2 separate regions of the Homo sapiens genome follow, and region 1 is linked to region 2. Evidence: fine-mapped expression QTL. Tissue or cell type: esophagus muscle. Region 2 holds a variant in brackets; the other region holds the start of a gene. All regions are shown on one strand. Distances are between the middles of the regions.

Evidence for each region. PIP is the estimated chance that this variant, and not a neighbour inherited with it, causes the effect.
Region 1: it holds the start of SAP30L, and the variant in region 2 is fine-mapped to the expression of SAP30L in esophagus muscle (GTEx, PIP 0.95).

Annotation. Positions count from the first base shown.
Region 1 is chr5:154,441,047-154,450,347 of GRCh38, reverse strand. SAP30L (SAP30 like) reads right to left here and starts at 4,351. Exons shown (of 4, transcript NM_024632.6): 1 at 3,543-4,351. The coding sequence starts at 3,743. SAP30L-AS1 (SAP30L and GALNT10 antisense RNA 1) reads left to right here and starts at 4,526. Exons shown (of 3, transcript NR_037897.1): 1 at 4,526-4,610; 2 at 6,868-6,986. RefSeq lists silencers at 3,708-3,817, 3,948-4,477 and enhancers at 4,054-4,554, 4,608-4,727.
Region 2 is chr5:154,407,279-154,418,138 of GRCh38, reverse strand. It overlaps GALNT10 (polypeptide N-acetylgalactosaminyltransferase 10), which reads right to left. Exons shown (of 12, transcript NM_198321.4): 9 at 8,377-8,598; 10 at 5,134-5,250; 11 at 2,207-2,356; 12 at 1-1,325. The coding sequence ends at 1,167. All of the region lies in intron 2 of SAP30L-AS1 (SAP30L and GALNT10 antisense RNA 1), which reads left to right. Among named protein-coding and RNA genes, the nearest start is that of SAP30L-AS1, 33 kb to the left of the region's middle. RefSeq lists an enhancer at 7,255-7,755. The variant T/A (reference allele first, on the strand shown) is at 6,191.

The DNA.
Region 1 (9,301 bases), 33 kb before region 2:
GCATTATCTCACATCTGATCCACAAAGAAAAGTGGAAAAAGATGTGGAAGTTCTTACAAGGTAGAACCACATACAAGAAGGTGGATACTACAGATTTTCTAATACAGGCTGGAGGCACACTGGTAAGTGAAGGTGGCAGCAACAGCTAAGACATGAAGAATCCTCCAAGGCTGGCTGGAGGAACCACTGAAAAACTTTACAGAAACTGAATGCCCAGCAAATGACTTGGGGTTGTTGATACTGAAACAGCTGTTGCACAAATGTTCTGCAGAGACTTCTGAATTTGAGTTTATTCCTTAAATCCTTAAAGATAAAAGTAAGCTGGCAGGAAATCCGCATCAATTAATTCAGACCTTTTCATGGAGAAAATAATGAAAACTGTTTATTTATTTATTCAGATGAATGATCACTTTCATGTGGCTGGATTAGTGAGTCATAAGTACTTTTAAGTTTATACTGTGATGGTGTCTTGCAGACAGGAGGTACTCGAAAAATGTTGATGTACCAATATAGGAAGTCTCCTATATCTAAAAGTGGCTTAAGGCTAATGAAAGCCACCACTTAACATGGTTACAAACTGGGATAGCTTTGTCAGATTCAACTCTGTCAAAGGACTTTCAAACACAGCACATGCCACTGTCCCAAAGAATCCCACCTAGCTGATGTATATACTACTGGACATGCTTTTCTCCAGGAAGAAAGCACAACAAAGCACACTCTGCATCCCTGAGAGGAAGCTAGCCCTCCATGTTAGCTAGACTGGCGAGTCCACTCAGATCAACTGCTCCTCAAGTTCACAGTAACAAACTTCATAGGAGAACAGGGAGAATAGGTGGCTTCCTAAAGCTTTGGCTGGGAGATTTCAGATCAGGACAATAGAATAACGGAATCCTAGCTGTAAGAGAACTTAGCAATCACTAGTGCAATCCCATTGACCCCAATCCGTTTTCTAAATGGGTAAAATGAAGCCATCCAGAGTGAGGAAATGACCTGGCCAAGGTCACCCAGGCCTTCTGCCCCCCCAGTACATGTCTTTTCCTACTCCAGCATTTTCCTTTATACTATTCTCAACTTCCACTTTTCTCCAGGAAAAAAAAAGCAGAAATATGTCAACTGGAGGTATATTAGTATTTTAACAGATCACAGAACACTGCCAAAGTCTATATAAAATGAGTTAAACAGCCTGAATTGAATTTCTGGTGTTGTTATTTAAAAAGGTTCTCTGCTAGACTCTCTTACAAGATAAATAATCATTTTCTCCTTAACCATTTTCAAGTACATACTGGTTTTCAGAAATTTCAGAGCTCAGTGGCCTTTGGGAGTGGGGTTGGGGCAGGAGGGTGGTAGCAAAGGCTCTAGTTTTTTTTTTTCCTTCACTTTCTGCAATAGCTAAAAATTCTTGTAACATACCAGTTACCTGGAATTGAATTCCTGCCCAAGCCTGTGAGAAAGAAATAGAATCCCTTTCAGAAATAATGACTCCACAACACCACCTTAAAACAAATTTTGAGTGATTCCACCTGGAAACCTTACTACCTCAGAAGTATTACATTTTGGGAACACTAATGCTAGGCTCAGGCTGCCCTTCTTCTAGACAGTGTGTGTGAAATGATCAGCATAGCTCAACACAGGTTTTCCAGTACAGTCAATGGGTAAATAAAAGGAGTCCCAGTTGCAGCAGCAAAATCATTCAGATGGGAAGGCATCCAGTGATCTAAAAGGACTGGAAGATTCTTTTAAGGACTGGAAATTATTATTATAAGCTGCTCAAGTAAAGCAGCTTCTAACAACCTACACGGAAGGTAGGCAGTGTTTCTAAGTGGATGAATTCATTGCCATAAGCATTTCACCTCAACGTGTGACCTAAGGAGGGATCACCTTGGTGTCTAGACCCTTGTTTGTTCTCAGATATTTCCATTCATGCATTCATTGATAGAGATTTGTAGTAAGAAAGCCATTAACTCTCTCCCAACCACTTAAAAATAGCACCTGTCCATGCAAGAGCTGCAACTGTATTATAATGATTAACTTAAAAATGGGGGTAGGAGGGAAGAGTCTGAAGAAAGGACAGGGGCTGGGCGCAGTGGCTCACGCCTGTAATCCCAGAACTTTGGGAGGCCTAGGCGGGTGGATCATTTGAGGTCAGGAGTTCAAGACCAGCCTGTCCAACATGGCGAAACCCTATCTCCATTAAAAATACAAAAATCAGCCAGGCATGGCGGCAAACGCCTGTAATCCCAGCTATTCAGGAGGCTGAGGCAGGAGAATCGCTTCAACCCGGGAGGCGGAGGTTGCAGTGAGTCGAGATCTTGCCACTGCACTCCAGCCTGGGTGACAGAGTGAGACTCCGTCTCAAAAAAAAAAAAAAAAAAAAAAAAGAAAAAGAAAAAAAAAAGAAAAGAAAAAGGACAGGGGAGATTTTTTATTTATTAGAGACTTAATGAAGACTTATGTATAGGGCTTGGAAGTAAATTAGATAATATCTTTAAGAAATTAACCAGCCTCTTAGGTGCTGTGTGTACCTGACACCCTCACTTCCTATCTCTGGGCCTGTTTCAACCCTAAAATCAGAGGGGAAACGTGCACTCCCTTTCAGTTTAACAAGCAGTCTCTGATTTCCTCCAACTGTGGAGAAATTCTGATTCTAGAAGAGAATGGATGTTAACCACCTAAGCTCTTAGCTAGTCTACCTGAATATTAAATATCCCCTTAACTCATTTCCAATTCCTAATCATGAAGCAATCACTTAAGGCTTGTAGCAACAGATGTCAAACTAAAAAGTTCTTAATTGGTTGACAATAGGCACAGCTTCAGAATTGTTAACTAGAAGTGGTGAAGTCACACGGGAGGAGTTTCCTATAATAAGCCACAAAGAGCAGGGCAATCCGATTTAAATTTAAATATCCACCCCCTTATTTCAAAAGAAACTACCACTAAGAAAATTGATTTCTTTTCTTCCCCCCTCCAGTCACATCGACTGCAAGAGCCATTTCTCAAGACCTGGCCTTGGCCTTATTTCTGCCACATCCTAGAAAAACCCATTCCCACAGCTGCCTGCGAAGCAGCTAGCTCGGTGACCCTCTGCTGATACCGAGGATGCGGGAGCCAGGGAAGTAACTGCCACCTTTCTCTGTCTGAAGGAATAACAGGGTTCCTAGAAGGAGAGAGAAGTTGGAAAAGAGCCGGGTATCTTCATCACTCCCCGCTCCGATTCTTGCTCCTTCAAGGGCCAACAAAACTAACCCACCTCTCCCTGCTCTAAAGTCTAAACCAATAAAACAAGTTGGAAACTGCTGTCCAATCTTTCCAGGCAGCAGGAGTCCTGAAGCCCCCGCCCCCATCCTCCCGGATCTGGGTAGAATCACAGTCAGAGCATGTCAGCGCTGGAGCGGCCTTTGAAATGCGGAGTCCAACTCAGTTCTGCAGAGCCGGGGCGGCGAGGCCCACGGCGGGGAGTGCCCGGGGAGTCCCGACTGGAGCCCAGGGCAGCGGACGGAGAGCTGGGGGCGCCGGGGCCCAGACGCGAGCGGGGGCGGACTCACGCTCTTGTCGATGTCCAGCTTGAGTTTCTTCTGCGAGATGCTCTTCTGGACCCTCTTGCTGAAGGAGGCGTTGCCCGCGGGCCGGACGCAGCGCTCGCCGTCCTCGATGAGGCAGCAGCTCTGGCCGTAGCCCGGGGCGGCGGCAGCTGGGGCGGCGGGGGGCCCTTCGCGGCTGTCCTCCTCCGTGCTGAAGCCGTTCATCTCCCCGCCCCGGGCCGGTCCCTCTGGGGGAGGGTCCCCGGTAGGCCACTCCGCGGCCGCGCTTGCCGCGGGGCAGGTCGCTGAGACCCCCGCAGCCGAGGGTCCCAGAGTCCGTCTCCAGCCCGGGCGCTGCCCTGCCCCGCGTCCGAGAGGCCCGGCTCCCTCGGCCCCCGGCCCTCCGCCTCCGGAAGCCCCCTTCCTCCCGGCTCGAGGCCCCGGGGTCGGCTCCCGCGGCTCGCAGGGCCCCGCCGGGGGTCACCCGGAGGAGCCTTCTGCCGGGGGCCCAGAACCGTAACCCTGCAGCGGGGGTGTCCGGGAGGGCGTCCCAGGAAACAGCCGCTCCCCAAGGACTCCGGGCCTGGGTTGCCAGGGGGTTTCGAAGGCCCCTGCCGGCTCCCGCCTTCTTTCGGCAGCGGGGCAAACTCGCTGCCGGGCAGCTCCCCCGGGGTGGCGCGGCCTCCTCGCGCGGGGCCCGGCCTCGAACCCGCGGCACCCGGGCCCCGCGGCTCGTCCGGCCCACTCCACCCCTGCAGCCACTCGGCTGCGCCCCGAGTCCCGCGGCAGCCCCTGGGCCGCCCGGCCGCCGCCCGCCGAACGCTCCGCACCACAACAGTTCGCTCCCCCCGCCCTTCGCGGGACAGCGGAAGTCCCGCCTTCACGCGACCATTGGTCTCATTTGCTCTCTGGGCGGGGCTGCCGCCGCCGCTGGCGCGTCCCATTGGGCGTCGCCGCCGCCAGTCTCCGGCGCCAGGCTACTTCCTGGACTCTGCTGGGATGGGTTCAAAGTAGAGAAAGTGGAAGAGGAAAGAGTTACCCCAGCGAGAACCGGGAACCGGGCTGCAGACTCTCCGGCCCGGGGGAGGGATGGTGAGCAGGGGCCTGGCTGGACCGAGGGCCAGACTCCAGGAACAGAGGAACACATTCGGGGACAGACAGTAGAGACGCGGACGGGGACGCTGAGGGACAGACTTGGAGGAGGGGCATATGAGGGGACCTAAAGAGGATAGAGGTGCTATCAGGAGAGGGGCGGACTAATAAAATGAAAGGGCCAGGGCCAGAGGACTCGCGGATCCGTGGGAGGAAGGGTGGGTGAAATAGGACGGAAAGCCAGTCATGGCGGGAAAGACAGAGGGACAACCCCATACAGATACGTGGAAAGACATGCGGAGGAGGTGATGGGGGGATCTTGCAAGGCAGTCGCAATATTGGGGGTAGCCGATACCTTCCAGAGTGTGGAGAGTGGGACTGGCTTGGACGGCGCGGAAAGAAAAGGAGAGGGGGAAAGGAGACCCCGAGGGGTTTGGGCGACCCCTCCACTGGGAAGAATGGGAAGTCCGAATGAGGTCTGGAGGGTGGACTAGGTGAGCCGCGGGCAAGAGAAAGGGCTTCAGGGGAGATGAAGTGAAGGCTGGGAGTGGGGCCCAGGGGCCAATCTCGGAATCTAGATGGGGAAGGGCTGCGGTGTCTTGGGCTCTCCCTGGAGCTCCAAGCTGTAGTTCTATTGCTTTGAGTCCCCGGGTCTACCGGCGAAGCGACTGCGCCCTGCCAAGACCCTGCGCTTGGTTTCGGCGCCCAGGGCACCACCTCCCCTCCAGGAGGGGCCGTAGGATATGCTCTGGTCCAGCACTTCAGTCATGCCACTCTCCAACTGCGCAGCATGGGGACTGATGAGGTCCGAAAGGCGATGGGACCAGCCCAGGGTCGTGTAATTATGTAGGGCTGGGCAGCGTTTTATGGGCAGGGAAGAGGGGAGGCTGTGTTAGGTGATAGGTAAGCAAGTGTTAGTACTAGAGGGCATAGAAGGAGCTTCGGGTTTGTGTCCTGTTGTAAAAGGGAAAGCTACCAGTTTCCATGTTTAGAAGCAGGTGGCTGGTGATCTTAAGTTTTGCTCAGTGGCCATAAATGCATTTGTAGCATCTGAACTGGTAATTTCACACGTGGGACAGCCATCGTCGGAAATAGGCCTATCAGAGATAATATGAAGTACAGTGATGTTCATTATGGAATTATTTATAATAGGAAAAATAAAATAGAACCTCAGAGTTCCAAAAGGGAAGTGGTTAAGTAAACTACCTAAAATCTTCAGAAAGAGATTGTGCAGTTAGCATTTGAGGTAGTTTCAACATCAATGTAAACATTTTCTATAGAGAATAATTCACCATTAATTCTTAAATAAAGAGCTGATGAGGAGTTGGAGAAATGCTTTTTTTATGATAAGTAAAAAAATTCAGGATATGAAATTGCATGGAGGATACGATGTCTGTACATCTATGTTTAAAGAAAAAAGAAAACTATTGGTATAAAAAATGCACCAAAGTACTAACAGTGATTATTTCTGGGTAGCAGGAATATGGCTGATATTTTTCTCCTTTTGTTTAACCTTTGCATTTTCTTTAATAAGCATTATTTTTGTTTTTACAGTAGAAAAAATAGAATAAAAATTAATGGAAAAAAGGCACAGATTAATAGGAGTCTTCCCTCAGAGTTCATATATTCTGTTCAAAAGTAAATTGTTGTTGAACTCATTATGTATACCAAGTATAGGGTTGGCTATAGGAGGAGGATGAAACATAACCCTTGCCCTAAAAGAATATCTCCTATCTGGGGTGTTCAGACATATATGTAGAAAACACTTGGGTATCTGTACCAGGCACTGTGTGATGTTGGGTCCAAAGTCAGTTGGTATGGATGAAACCTCCATGTTCCCCATATTTTTCTAAACAGCATTTGTATTCAATGCTAGGCTATTGCGGTACACAACTTCTTCTGCACCAACTTGCCCTGGTCTAAGGGGATCTAGGACCTTTTCTTAGGTGCTCTGTCTCAGTCCTTGAGGTAGTGGCTACTTATATCTGCTATTCTTGTATTATTTAGCATTCTTTTTTCTTTTTACTAGGCAGTTCCTTATAACTGTAGGGGACTACAGTCCCCTATTATAATTAATACATGTTTATATTATTATTTTCCTGTTCAAATTACTGTAAGGTTACTCTTTCCTGATTACACCCAGCCTGATACGCCCAGCCAGCCTCTGTGTGTGTGTGTGTGTGTGGTGGTGGTGGTGGGGGAGTTCATGCTTGTAACTGTTCTTTTTTTTTCTTTTTTCTTTTTTCTTTTGAGACAGAGTTTCACTCTGGTTGCCCAGGCTGGAGTGCAATGGCGCGATCTCGGCTCACCGCAACCTCTGCCTCCCGGATTCAAGCGATTCTCCTGCTTCAGCCTCCCGAGTAGCTGGGATTACAGGCATGTACCACTGCTCCCGGCTAATCTTGTATTTTTAGTAGAGATGGGGTTTCTCCATGTTGGTCCGGCTGGTCTCGGACTCCCAACCTCAGGTGATCTGCCCGCCTCGGCCTCCCAAAGTGCTGGGATTACGGGTGTGAGCCACCGCTCCCAGCCATTCTTTATGTATAATTTTGTAGTCTTTATTCAAGGCATACTTTATCATAATCTTTCCCCATATTGCTATGTAGTTTTCACAGTTGCCATTTTTTATGTAGTACAGTGCAGTTTCTGTAGTACAGTACACTGTGGTGCTAAAGACAGTTGGCTTTGCTGTCAGAACTGGGTTCAGATCTGGACTCCACCCATGACTTGTTATAACATGTTAGCAATTATTTCACTTCTTGAGTCTGATGAAATAGGTGGTGACAAATTCTTAACACAGTGCCTAGAACATCATAAGTGGTTAATAAATGTCAGCTATCATGATTCCTACCGTAGTTACATTTGCCCCCCCAGAAGTTGGATATCTTTTTTGTGTGGTTCTGTATAATTATTTTTGAACATAAAACTTTTTATTATTTAGGATTATTATTTTTTCTGAGTGCCAGAGATGGAATTGTGGTCAAAGACTACAAAGTTTTCCAAGGTCTAAGGGCCAGGCTCACTGACCCTTTTTTTCTTTCCTGTCTTTTCTGCCCCTGCCCTCCCCACCTTCATTCCTTCCATCCAGTCAGGCCCCAGTTGAGAAGTTATCCCCCAACACGCCTTAAAGAATCAGAGTTGGATACCTTGGCCAAGCAGTCACAGTCCTACAAAAGCTCTTTGCTCTCCTCTTTCTCTCCTCTTTTCCCTTTTTGGGGAATGTGGCATATGGCTCTGGGAGTGATTTCCAATGACTGCCCTTCTTTGGGAACAGGTGGACACTTAGGTGTCCAGTGACTGGGTTTCTAATCCTTGAGTGGCCCCTGATTGTCTAATAGTGAATACTTGCTGGGTTAAGCCTGTGGCTCAAACTGTACTGGTCAGTTTCTCTCCAGCAAATCTGCTGGTTGGAACTGACAGGTGGTTGGTGGGAGTGGTTAGAGCAGAGGCACTAATGGTGGGTCCTGCCTCCTGTGTTCCCCAGGGCCTGGTAGTTGAGCTTGCCCTTGGGTTCTGTAAGGTACTCATAGATATGTTGGCATGAACCAAAAGTATCTGAGACAGGTCTCAATTTAGAAGGTTTATATTGCCAAGGCTAAGGACGTGCACGTGACACAGCCTCAGGAGGTCCTGACTACATGTGCCCAAGGTGGTTGGGATACAGCTTGCTTTTATACATTTTAGGGAGACATGAGACATCAGTCAATATGTACAAGATGTACATTGGTTCCATCTGGAAAGGCAGGACAACTTGATGCTGGGGCTTCCAGGTCATAGATAGATAAGAGACAAATGGTTGCATTCTTTTGAGTCTTTGCTCAGCGTTTCACTGAATATACAATTTACATGTGGGGAAGGGGTGAGGTGGGTGGTAGAGGAATAGTCATTTATGCCTTTGTCTCAGTGGATCTGCATTTTTACATAAACAACAGGGCAGAAGAAGCAATCAGATATTCATTTGTCTCAGGTGAGCAGAGGGATGACTTTGAGTTCTGTCCTTTGTCCCACACCTATGAAGATAAGCTATCCATTTACATTGCCAGGGTGAAATTCAACAGAACTGTTTTAGGGTAAAGATCTTGATGCCCACAAGGAATTTCCTTGTGGGCAAATTGTGAGGGAGGTCTGTAGCTTTTTTATCTTTGTAGCTATCTAACTTAGGAATAAAATAAGAGGTAGGTTTGCCTGATGCAGTTTCCAGCTTGACTCTTCCCTTTGCCTTAGTGATTTTGGTGTCCCGAGATTCATTTTCCTTTCACATTGTTCTGAGACTGGAAGTTCTGCAAGGACAGGGAACTGTCTCTATGGCTCATCATAGTTTCCAGTGCCCAGGCACTTGATTAATATTTGTTGAATGGATGGATAGATGGATGATGGATGACTTGGCCTCTGGAATCAAGAGGCAGTACAGCATAATGGTTGGTATAAATCTAGATGTAGTCAGCTTATGCTGGAATCCTGGCTCTGCCACTGACTAGCCTGGGAACCTTGGGAAAATTACATGGCCTTAGTCTGCCATGGTTTCCTCATCTGTAAAATGGGGATGATAGTAACCTCTCGGGATTGTTGTGAAGACTGTCTGAGTTATTAGATATAAACCAACTATTAGATATAAAAGTGCCTTGCACATATTAGGTACTCAATAAATATTAGATACTATTATTGGCTTAATTAGTCATAATTAGGTTTAG
Region 2 (10,860 bases):
GGCTGCCTTGACTGTATTACACCTGGCTGGCTCCTTTAATCACAGCATTCTAGAAATCCATATTGGATGTGGAATACCAGAATCCTATGTAGCATCCTAGTTTGCAATCCAATTATAGAGTTCTTTAAAAATTCTGGAGTTCTGTATGAGAACTAGAACCATGATGAGGTCAGAGGCAGGCACTTTGCCCACAGTTGATCCTGGAGGCCTCCAGACTCTGTGAGGTGAGCACCTCGCAGCACCTCTGTTCCTCTTTTGAGGCCAGTAATTGCCTGGGGAAGAGAGACAGGGAAATGGAAGCATGGATCAGGGCAAATCAGCCAGCATTTCTAGTTTGGAGGTCTACCTGGCCTTTTCCGTGGGCTCAGGGCCATCTGAAACACTGCCCTGTAAAGCTGGTGCTGGGCTGTCCTTGTGCCTGGAGAGTGCTAAAATTGACATTTCAAATACCCAGAGAGCAGGGGGAGATATCCCGCATGTCCATAGCTGCAAAGAAATGTCTAGGGGGGCTCCCTCTTCTGACTCCTCACCTGGCAGCTGATCAGCATTCAATACTGAACACTCTTAGGGCCCCAAGTATGGCCTTTGACCGGACCAAATCACCTGGGGTTGTGACAGAGAACAGAAGCTGTGCAGTAACTGCAATGTTCCCCCCAGGACGGCAGAAACTAAAAAGCCCCAAGAGGACTTCTTTCTCTTCTGCTGCAGATGAGTGGCATCGATACTAAAAGCTGCCCCAAACAGGCAAATTTTACCTTTGTTTCTAAAGCACCATCATGTAGGAGAGCCATCTGAGGGCTGGGCAACCTCGCAGGACTCACTTTTGGGTGGCCTAGGCTACCTTGGTGTTCTCCCACATAATGTTCAAGGGGACATAGTGACAAAGTTGAAAAGGCTCTGTTGCTTTTCCGTGATGTCAGCAGGGATTAAAGCAGTCTCTGCTCCCTGTGGGGCCTCTTGTGGGATATGCTCTTCACCCTACCCCCACAACTCAGGGGCTCAAGGACCAGGCAGACCCCAGCCCCTGAATCAAGAGCCCTCTTCACCCTGAACCATTTGGCCAGCACCTTTTACACCTAGTGCCCACAGGGGCCCTGCCTCCCTTGAAAGAGGAAGTCTGCAGTGAGTGCCAGACCCTGGGGGGCCTGCCAAGGGGACATGAGGGCTCAGTTCCTATTGAATTTTTCCAAGACTGTTGAGTTGGTGTGTTCAAACAGCCACTGCTGGGTGAGAGAGGATGGGTTGCAGGTGTTCATGAAGATCCTATGGTCACTTTCACTGCAGTCCATGCAGCTGCCACTGACAGGGTGGTACAGGGTCTTGTCCTACAAAACATGGAGGTAATAAGCCAGACAGCACTGGAGACATGTGGCCAGTCAAACCACAGCAACAATACCAGCAATGAGAAAGTGAGGAAGTGACTGACTGACTAGCTGTTCATACACCTGTTGGTTTTCCTCCTGAGCTCACAAGCCGGATGCTGCCCAGCCTCCCTTGCAGCTGGTATTGCCGTGGGACTGGGTTCTGCCCGCTGGGATGTGGCCAGAAGTGATGCACGCAGCTTCCAGGCCTGGGACCTAGACACTGCCCACCTCCTGTCAGACCTCACTGGTCCTTATCGTGTGTGTGTGTGTGTGTGTGTGTGTGTGTGTGTGTGTATGTGCTTTCCTTTTATCTTTTATTTTTTTAATTTTTTTAATTTTTTTGAGACAGGTTCTCACTCTGTCACCCAGGCTGGAGTGTAGTGGCACAATCTTGGCTCACTGCAACCTCTGCCTCTCAGGTTCAAGTGCTTCTCCTGCCTCGGCCTCCCGAGTAGCTGGGAGTACAGGCATGAGCCACCATGTCTGGCTGATTTTTGTATAGAGACGGGGTTTCACCATGTTGGCCAGGCTAGTCTCGAACTCCTGACCTCAGGTGATCCACCCACCTCAGCCTCCCAAAGTGCTGGGATTACAGGCATGAGCCACTGTGCCCGGCTGCACTTTTCTTTTTAAATGGAATCAGTTGCCAACATTTAAGACTTGAGGATTTCACAGTGAAGTCTAGATTTCTGACTACTCTTGAATGACTACAAAATCCGGCATGGTAGGTTTGTGGCACAAATGAATAAGTGGATGGGCTCTGTTGAAAGAAGGGGTGAAGCACTGTATTGCCTTAAAAAAAAATTAAGCAGGTGCCCTGCTCCCCCCGCATCCCATCTTACTTTGCGGTATTTCCACAGCTGGTTGCCCTTCATGCTGTGGCAGTCGTACAGCGTGACAGGGCTGGTGTGGGAAATGGCATCAAAGCAGAACTTCTTGGTGTGCTGGGGGTCTCCAGGCCGGATGTCCTCTCTCCAGGTGAAGGTGAATACCTGTGCACAGGGGCATCATAAATAGGGATAGCAAAGCCAAGGACTTTCTTTTTTTCTCCATTTTTTTTAAATTATGGAAAAATTTAAACTCAGAGGTCCAAATAATAATATATTAACCTGTTCTAACCACCTAGCTTTAAAAGTTACTAACTTGGCCAGGTGCGGTGGCTCACCCAGCAGTTTGGGAGGCCAAGGTGGGTGGATCACTTTGAGGCCAGGAGCTTGAGAACAGGCTGGCTAACGTGGTGAAACCCCGTCTCTACTAAAAATACAAAGATTAGCTGGGTGTGGTGGCGTATGCCTGTAATTCCACCTACTCGGGAGGCTGAGGCAATGAGAATCACTTGAGCCCAGGAGGCAGACGTTGCAGTGAGCCGAGACTGCACCACTGCCCTCCAGCATGGGGGACAGAGTGAGACTCTGTCTCAAAAAAAAAAATAAGTTACCAACTCAAGGCCAACGTTGTTGCAGCTCTACTTCCACCCCTATCCTTACCCTCACAGTATTTTGAAGCAAATCTCAGCTATCATATCATGTCAGGTATAAACACTTCAGTAAGTGCCATTATAACATCTAAAAGTAGTTACTACAAGGTCCAAAATGTCATCAAATATCCACAGTTCAAGTGTTCTTGGGATTCTTTTTTTTGTTTGTTTTTTGAGACGGAGCTTCACTCTTGTTGTCCATGCTGGAGTGCAATGGTGCAATCTTGGCTCACTGCAACCTCCACCTCCTGGGTTCAACCAATTCTCCTGCCTCAGCTTCCCAAGTAGCTGGGATTACAGGTGTGTGCCACCACGCCTGGCTAATTTTGTAGTTTTAGTAGAGAAGGGGTTTCACCACGTTGGTCAGGCTGGTCTTGGACTCCTAACCTCAGGTGATCTGCCAACCTTGGCCTCCCAAACTGCTGGGATTACAGGCGTGAGCCACCGTGCCTGCTCAGGATTCTTATCAATTTCTTTTCACAGTTAGTCTGAGTCAAGATCCATTTGGTTGATAACCTTTGTTACTTTTCAGTAGCTTTACTGAATAATAACTGGCATACAATAAACTGCACACATTTAAAGTGTACAATTTGATACATCTTGACATATGTTTACACCGAGAAACCATCATCATAATCAAGGTAATGAACATACCATTACCCCGCAAAAGTGTCCTCATGCTCCTCTGTAATCTCCTCCTCCTGTCCCCACCAACCCCCATGTCCTTAGGTCAGCCACTGATCTGCTTTCTGTTTCTAGAGATTAGTTTGCAATTTCTAGAATTTTCTATAAAGGAATCATACAGTATGTATTCTCTTTTGTGTCATTCTTTCACTCAACATAATTTTGTTGAGAATCATCTATGTCCTAACAGCATTTATCAATAATTCATCGCTTGTTATTGCTGAATTTGCACTCCAGTTCCTTGTTACAGGACATCTTGGTGGTTTCCAGTTTTTGGCTATTACAAATAAACCTGCTATGAACATTAGTGTACAAGTCTTTGTATGGACACATGTTTTCTTTCTCTTGGATAAATACCTAGGAGTGGGATGACTGGTTCAATGGTCAACTTTCTAAGAAACTGCCACAGTTTCCCAAAGTGGCTCTGCCATTTACACTCCCACCAGCAGCATACAGGTCCAGTTCATCCACATCTTTGCCAATCTTCAGTGTGGTCAGTCTTTTTAATAGGTGTGTGCTGGAATTTCCTTGTAATTGCAAGTTCTATTTCTCTATTAACTAATGAAATTCAGCATTTTAAATATGTTTATTTGCCATTCATATATTTTTTTTGGTAAAGTATCTGCCCGCTTTAAAATTAAAAAAATTATTGACTTTTGAGAGTTTGAGAGGATACAAGTCCTTTCATTTATATATTCTAGATACAAGTCCTTTATCAGATATATGCTTTACAAACATTTTCTTCCCATCTGTGGATTGCTTTTTATTCATTTTGAATTAGTCCAGTTTTTCAATTTTTTCTTTTATGGATTGTGTTTTTGTTGTTGTATCTAAAATATAATTGTTTATCCCAATGTCACTCCACCCAGGCTGCAGTGCATGGCACAATCACTGTAACCTCGAACACCTGGCTTCAAGCAAGCCTCCCCTAAGCTTCCCACACTGTTGGGATTGCAGGCATGAGCCCACTATTGTCTGAGCAGTGGCTCTTCCTGCAGGCTGGCTTACCCTCTGCATCCCACCCATCCTGCAGGTGAGGCTGACCATGCCCCTAGGCTCCAAGAGTCAAGGTAATGAACACACCCATCACCTCTCAAAAGTGACGGCTCTGTCCTCATCAATATGAGGACTTCCTCACTTCCTGCATAATCAGCTCAGGGACACAATTCATGGGAGCCCCAGGGCTTTTCCAGAACTCTTGGAAGTGGCATGCCTATCCATGGGGCTGCTGATGGCCACATCTGCTACTATATAGGAAGGGCCAGGTTGAGAATGAGGCCCGCAGAGAGGGAAGCACTCTCTTGAGAGATCCAGCAACATCATCAAGGCTTTTCAGGGACATGAGACAATAACGCACTTTTTGTTGAAGGCCATTTGGGCTGAGTGTCCATCATTTGTAACCAAAATGGTCCAGACTGATGGTTTTATTGCAATGTGAAGGAATCCCCTTTCCACGGTGTTCAGGAAGATCTTAAAACTCATCCCCGGGGCTGACTCTTGTCATTTATCACTGACCCATGCCTCTCCCTCCCAGCTGGCCGTGTCAGCACCCCAGGCTGCAGATGTTTCAGAGAACCTGGCTGCCAGTCCCTGAGGGGCGGCCCTTACCTGCATGTTGTTCCAGGCAGCCTCCCCACGGCCTCGGACGCAGCCCTCTAGCCTTAGTGGGGAGCCCAAGGCCCCGTGCTTTGTGTCTGCACACAGCCCTGTGCCCACATTTCGGATCTGAAAGGGAAAGAGGGAAGAAGTGGACCACTGAGGTGCCTTAAGGTGCCCACCGGGTCCCTGCCAGGTGAAAGGGGAAACCAAGTGGGAGACATTAGCTGGATTAACCTTCAAATCGTCTTGATAAAGCTTGCCCTGGGCTGTTGGAAGTACCTTGAGCCTCTCAATGAAGGAAGACTCAGTCCACAGAATGTAATCCTTAAAGCACTGCTGTAAGTAGTATTGTAGAGTATGCAGAGTCCTGGGTTGGTGGTGGGGGAGTGGAGGTGAGGAGTTGGTAAAGGACTCCCTGGCCCTACTCCTGGAGAAATTGAACCGACAGGTCCAGGAACCAGATTTTACCCCCATTCCAGGTGACTCAGGTGCAGGTGGTCCAGGGACCATACCTTGAAAGCGCCTAGAAAAGGACATGAAACCTTTGCTGTATGTCATGGACTGTCTCTGTCCCTTAGGACAGGTGAATGGCAAGAGGTGGCAGGAGGCCCCCTCACCCCCTGCTGAGATCCAAAGAACAATAGTTGCCTCTTCCCCTTCAACCATGAAGACGGGTGTGGTGGGAAGAGCACTGGGCTAGGAGTCTGAAGCCCTAGGCTGCTCACTTGCTTAGCCAACAAATACCGATTGGGCACTTACTGTGGGCAGGCCATTGTGCTAGGTGCATAGCGTCACATCATGTAGTTCCAACCTTACAGATATCAATCCTACTTTATCTGAGGGATAGGGGGCTGTGGTGGCTATGAAAATGCACCACCCAATTTCCTGTTGCAGAGAGTCTCATTGCACCCAGATCCTGTATTCTGAATCCACCACTGTGTCCACCCATGGATGGATCCCAGCCAATGGGTGAGGCAGACCCACTCTTGCGAGATGTTGAACTCCTCTGGCTGGTGATTTGGCTTGGGGACTCTTCATCAACCTGGCCAAAGCTTCCTTACAGCTT[T/A]ACTGCAGTCTGGACTCTTCCTATCCCGGCTCTCCTTCCTTCCCTCACCCCTTCACAGATGTAAGACCACTGTTGTGGTCTCATGGCTCTCCTAGTCTCCCCAGGTGTCTTCATTTTTCCTCTCAAGTGTTTTAACCATAAATCTCTTGCGTGTCTAATCCCACTGTGGCATCTGCTTCTTGGAGGACTTGAACTAACACAAGTGAGGAAGCCAACAAACTAGTAAAGAGCCAAAGAGCCTCATGAGGGAAGTCCACACAGCAGTGCTCCTGCAAACTGGAGGTGATGTTGGGGTAGGCTAGCCAGGCAGCTGAGCCAGGCAAGGGCTCTGTGACTGCTGTGTGAATTTGAGCAAATCACAGCTGGTGTTCCTGCCAGCCCACCATGCCTCTCCCCTTCCTCTGGTAACACCACCCTGACTTTCCATGGGGCTACTGCTCCTCACGCGCCCTGTGGCCAGCCGTAGTGTCCATCCTACCCTTGCTTTTCGTCTTCCCCGATGGCCCCAGTGATGGGTGCAGGATCCAAGAATAAGACTTGATTCCTGCACCTTTACTGGTATACTGGGAAAGAGGCATATACTTTCTGCTGGGTTGGCCAAGCAGTAGGGGTTGGTCAGCCTGAAGCTTCTGGAAGCCATTTTGATACCTTCAGCATGAGGCCAACACAAAAGGAACATGAGTTCAGCAGGAGAAGAAGAGACTGACATCATTTGAAGCCCTGGATCCAGGTTGTCTTAAGCCATAGCTACCCCAGGCTCATATGTGAGTCAAACACAATATATTCCCCCCATTTTTTTTTACTTTAAATTGGTCTTCTGAAAGAGCCCCAACTCTTATGCTCCCCTTTTCCAAGCTCCAACCTATCCATCAATGAATGGGTAGGTCCTCTCAGCTCAGAGACCCAGGATCCCATGGTGGCATGCTCGTCTGCTTGCAAAGACTGGTCTGCCTCGGCCAGCATGGGCCTCACGGGCCACACCATGCGCAGTTCACAGGTCCCCATGCTCAGGAGGGCCTGGCTTGATTTAAAGCTCTGCTGCCACTGTCTTGAAATTCTGAATAATTTTATCTTTGAACTGTTTTGTAAGTGAAATCTGATGGGACACTGGAGCGTGTGCATGAGCAGAGAAGCACGCTGTTCCTCTCTGCCCTGTCTGCATGCAGCATGTGCGAAGACACTGAATAAATAGGGGCGCTGGGGGTCCCAGAGGCCCTGCTTTCCCTTCAAACCGGAACTCGCTCTGGGTGTGCTAAGAAGGGCAACAGCATCCTAAGAAGCAGGAACGACCAACAAGTCCTGTCATGTTCTTTCTTACTTGCGTTACTGCCCCGTGTTAGCCAAGAACTTATGAAGGAAAGGGAAAGATAGGGCAACCCTTAGTTCCTTTTCTTTTTCGAGGCAGGGTCTTGCTCTGTCACCAGGCTGGAGTGCAGTGGCACGAGCACAGCTCACTGGAACCTCGACCTCCTGGGCTCAAGCAGTTCTCCTGCCTCAGCCTCCCAAGTTGCTGCAACTACAGGCACATACCATTACGCCTGGCTAATTTTTTCTTTTTTTTTTTTTTTTTTGTAGAGACAGGGTCTTCCTATGTTTCCCATAGGAAAATGTTGTCAAACTCCTGAGCTCAAGTCATCCTCCTGCTTTGGCCTCCCAAAGTGCTAGGATTACAGGCCTGAGCCACTGTGCCTGGCTCCTTAGTTCCTTTGCCTTCCAGCCCTTTCTTACTCATCAGTAAATGGAAGGTGGAGAGTGTTGGAAGAATATGCACATTATCAAGAAGTGAAGTAAAAAGCTGAGTTTGTTGTGTGCCATGTTTAGATTGTTCTGGTGAGAAATACTTATGCATGCAGCAGGTGGGAAATACAGATCATGTCATTTCACCCATTCTGAACATGAGTTACATGCTGTTAATCTGAATTTTAAATTGTCACTGCATAATATAAAGATGAAAGGTAAAATTCATGCTAATAACTTAAAGTTTTAATTTTTCTACACTGAGAACACTAACTAACAAGTAAAAATACACCATGACAAGGCTAGAGAGAGACCAGGAAAGAAAGGAAACGATTTTATATTCACGCCTTTCCTCCCTGCACTGACTTTCTACCTTTTGAACATGGGATCTGCATTTGCATTTTGCACACCCATTAAATTATGGAGCCAGCCCTGCCCTCCAGACTCACCTCCCCCCAAGCTGCAGCCGGGGGCTCCACGGGTGGGTAGAATTTGGGCAGGTCCCAGGCTATCTTCGTCATAAACCACTTGAAACTCTTGCAGTTAAGGGAGCTGCGGAGCTTTTTCTGGACTGCGACATCCCCAGCGGAGAGGTGGCGGTATTCAGGCCGGCGCTGGTAAATGTACTCTGCGTACTCATCCATCCACACTTCGGCCACCCGCTTAAGGTTCTATGGGGCAAGAAGCAATGGAGGGGTCAGTCTTTCCAAGAAGCCAAAGCCAGGCAGTGGGGTGAAAAGGGTCCTGGCAGGTCGAGGTCAACCCTTCTTATTTTATGTTCCATCAAAAATCCCAGCCCCACCGTGAGTTTAGGCCTTCTGTGTTTCTATTTATCATTATGCATGTTTTAAGGGCTTCACAGCTTATAGTTGGCCCATAGGCTGCTGTTGTTTTGCCTGCCCATCTTCCATCCCATCTTCTTCTAGCGATAGCCCCCACTGATTTTCCTCTGGGGAGCCACCCTGTCTCCCTGTCAGCTCATGTGGCAGGAGGAAAGGCATGGACCCAGCCTAGCTAATGTGAATACAGGCGCCCCCGGTGCAGGGGCTGGTCAAACAGCAGACCCATTCCCTAAGCCCCACCAATCACAACCAACAGGCATCAGCCTTGGGATTTTTGCAGGAACTATTGGAAGAATCGTTCTGTTTCTGCTTGGATTGCTGGGTAAGACAGGATGCCAGCCAGAGCTGCTGGGCCATATGGCCTCCAAGGAGAGACAAGGAGAGCCTGTCCAAGGATGAAATCAACCCAGAATGAAGCAGAGCGGAGGGCTGGATCCAGGAATGCATTCCGCCTTTTAACACCAGAATCCAGCCATGTCTGAAGCTAGAGCTACCTTGGACTTTCCAGTTACAGAAGCCTGTATATTCTTTCTTCGCTAAGCCAATTTGATTTGGCTTTTTGTCATTTTCAACTGAGAGTTTTGACCAAGCTATGTGATAAAGGCAAATTATAATTTGAAACCAAAAGGTGTAATTCCATCAGCAGCTGGAATTTCTAATAATCCTTTGAGGTGCAAAGGTTGCTGCTACTTTCATCATGAAGCACAAAGATAATCAGTTTTAAAAAATGACAGCCACATGATTGGCAAGCAGAGGCAGCAGGTGAGGAAAGTGTTTGTGAGTAGACTTGGGGACAGAGGAAGAGGGAATTCTTATGTATGTGATGAAAATTCCTGATTCCATCTGCAGTGTAGACCCCACCCAGTGAGAACTTCTGATATGTGATATATCTGAGAGCAAAACTTCAGGGTTCAGGGGAAATTCTCCGCTCCAAAACATCTTTCTTCAACCCCTGGCTGTTGTCCCCCCACCCCAATTTTAACTCTTCGGTTTTACCTCCTTCGTAAGTTTTTTCCCTATTGCAATCTAAAATTTCCTCTGAAAGGTTAAAGGGGAGTTAGCAGTTTAAGCTGTTATCAGTCATTTGCACCTCAGTGTGAAGGATTGCTCTAGGAGCAGAAGGTCAGGCAGGGGTCCCAAATGTTTAAATGTCTTCTATAAAGAGCCGGATAGTAAATACTTAGGCTTTGCAGACCATATGGTCTCACCTCTGATGTAGCTATAAAGCAGCCATAGACACCATATAAATGGTGTGGCTGGGTTCCAGTAAAACTTATGGATACTGAAATTTGATTTTCATGTATCACAAAATATTCTTCTTTTGATTCCCATTCCCTCTAATGATTTAAAAATGTAAAAACCATTCTTAGGTCACAGGCCATACAAAAACAGGCTGCTGACTCTGGAGTAATGGAGAAGGAAGCCAACATGAGGGAGGCCCCCGCACTGAAGACAAAATTCACCAGTTCCCCCATTTTGCTGGCTCTGAGTTGGGGACCAGGAAACAGCTGAATTTCCTTGTTGCTACCTAGTTCTTCCTGAGTGCTGAAGAGTCCACAGTGGGTTAGAAAACAGCTCAGGAACAGTGTTTATCCCCACCAGGCCCCTGCACAGAAAAGGCTGTGTTTAATTTAAAACTGTGCTAGAGGAAGTTGAAGGCCTAACAGAGACTGTCTACATGAACACTCTGAAACACAATATTTCCTCTGCTTTTTCCAGTATGTCCACCAGGCTCTTTTGGCTCACTGTCTAACCTGCTCGAGTCACAGAGGTAATGAGGGTAGTTTCACTCCAACTGAAAACAAGTCTGGACACTCTGACCATGGCCAGACTGGTTAAGAATGATACTGAAATTTACCAGTGTCATTCTTAAAGGATTGAATAACATCATATTTTAATTCTAATTATAATTACCATTTTAATTAATATTGCATAATTGTATCTTCCAGACACAGCTTGAAAAGCTCTTTCTCCCAGATTTTGAACTTTTTTGCTACAGTTCACTGTTTGCACCAAAGGAAATGACTTTACACTTATTTCTCTCACATCTCCCCTTGTTAGAGACATAAAAAGGACCTTGGGATTTCAGTG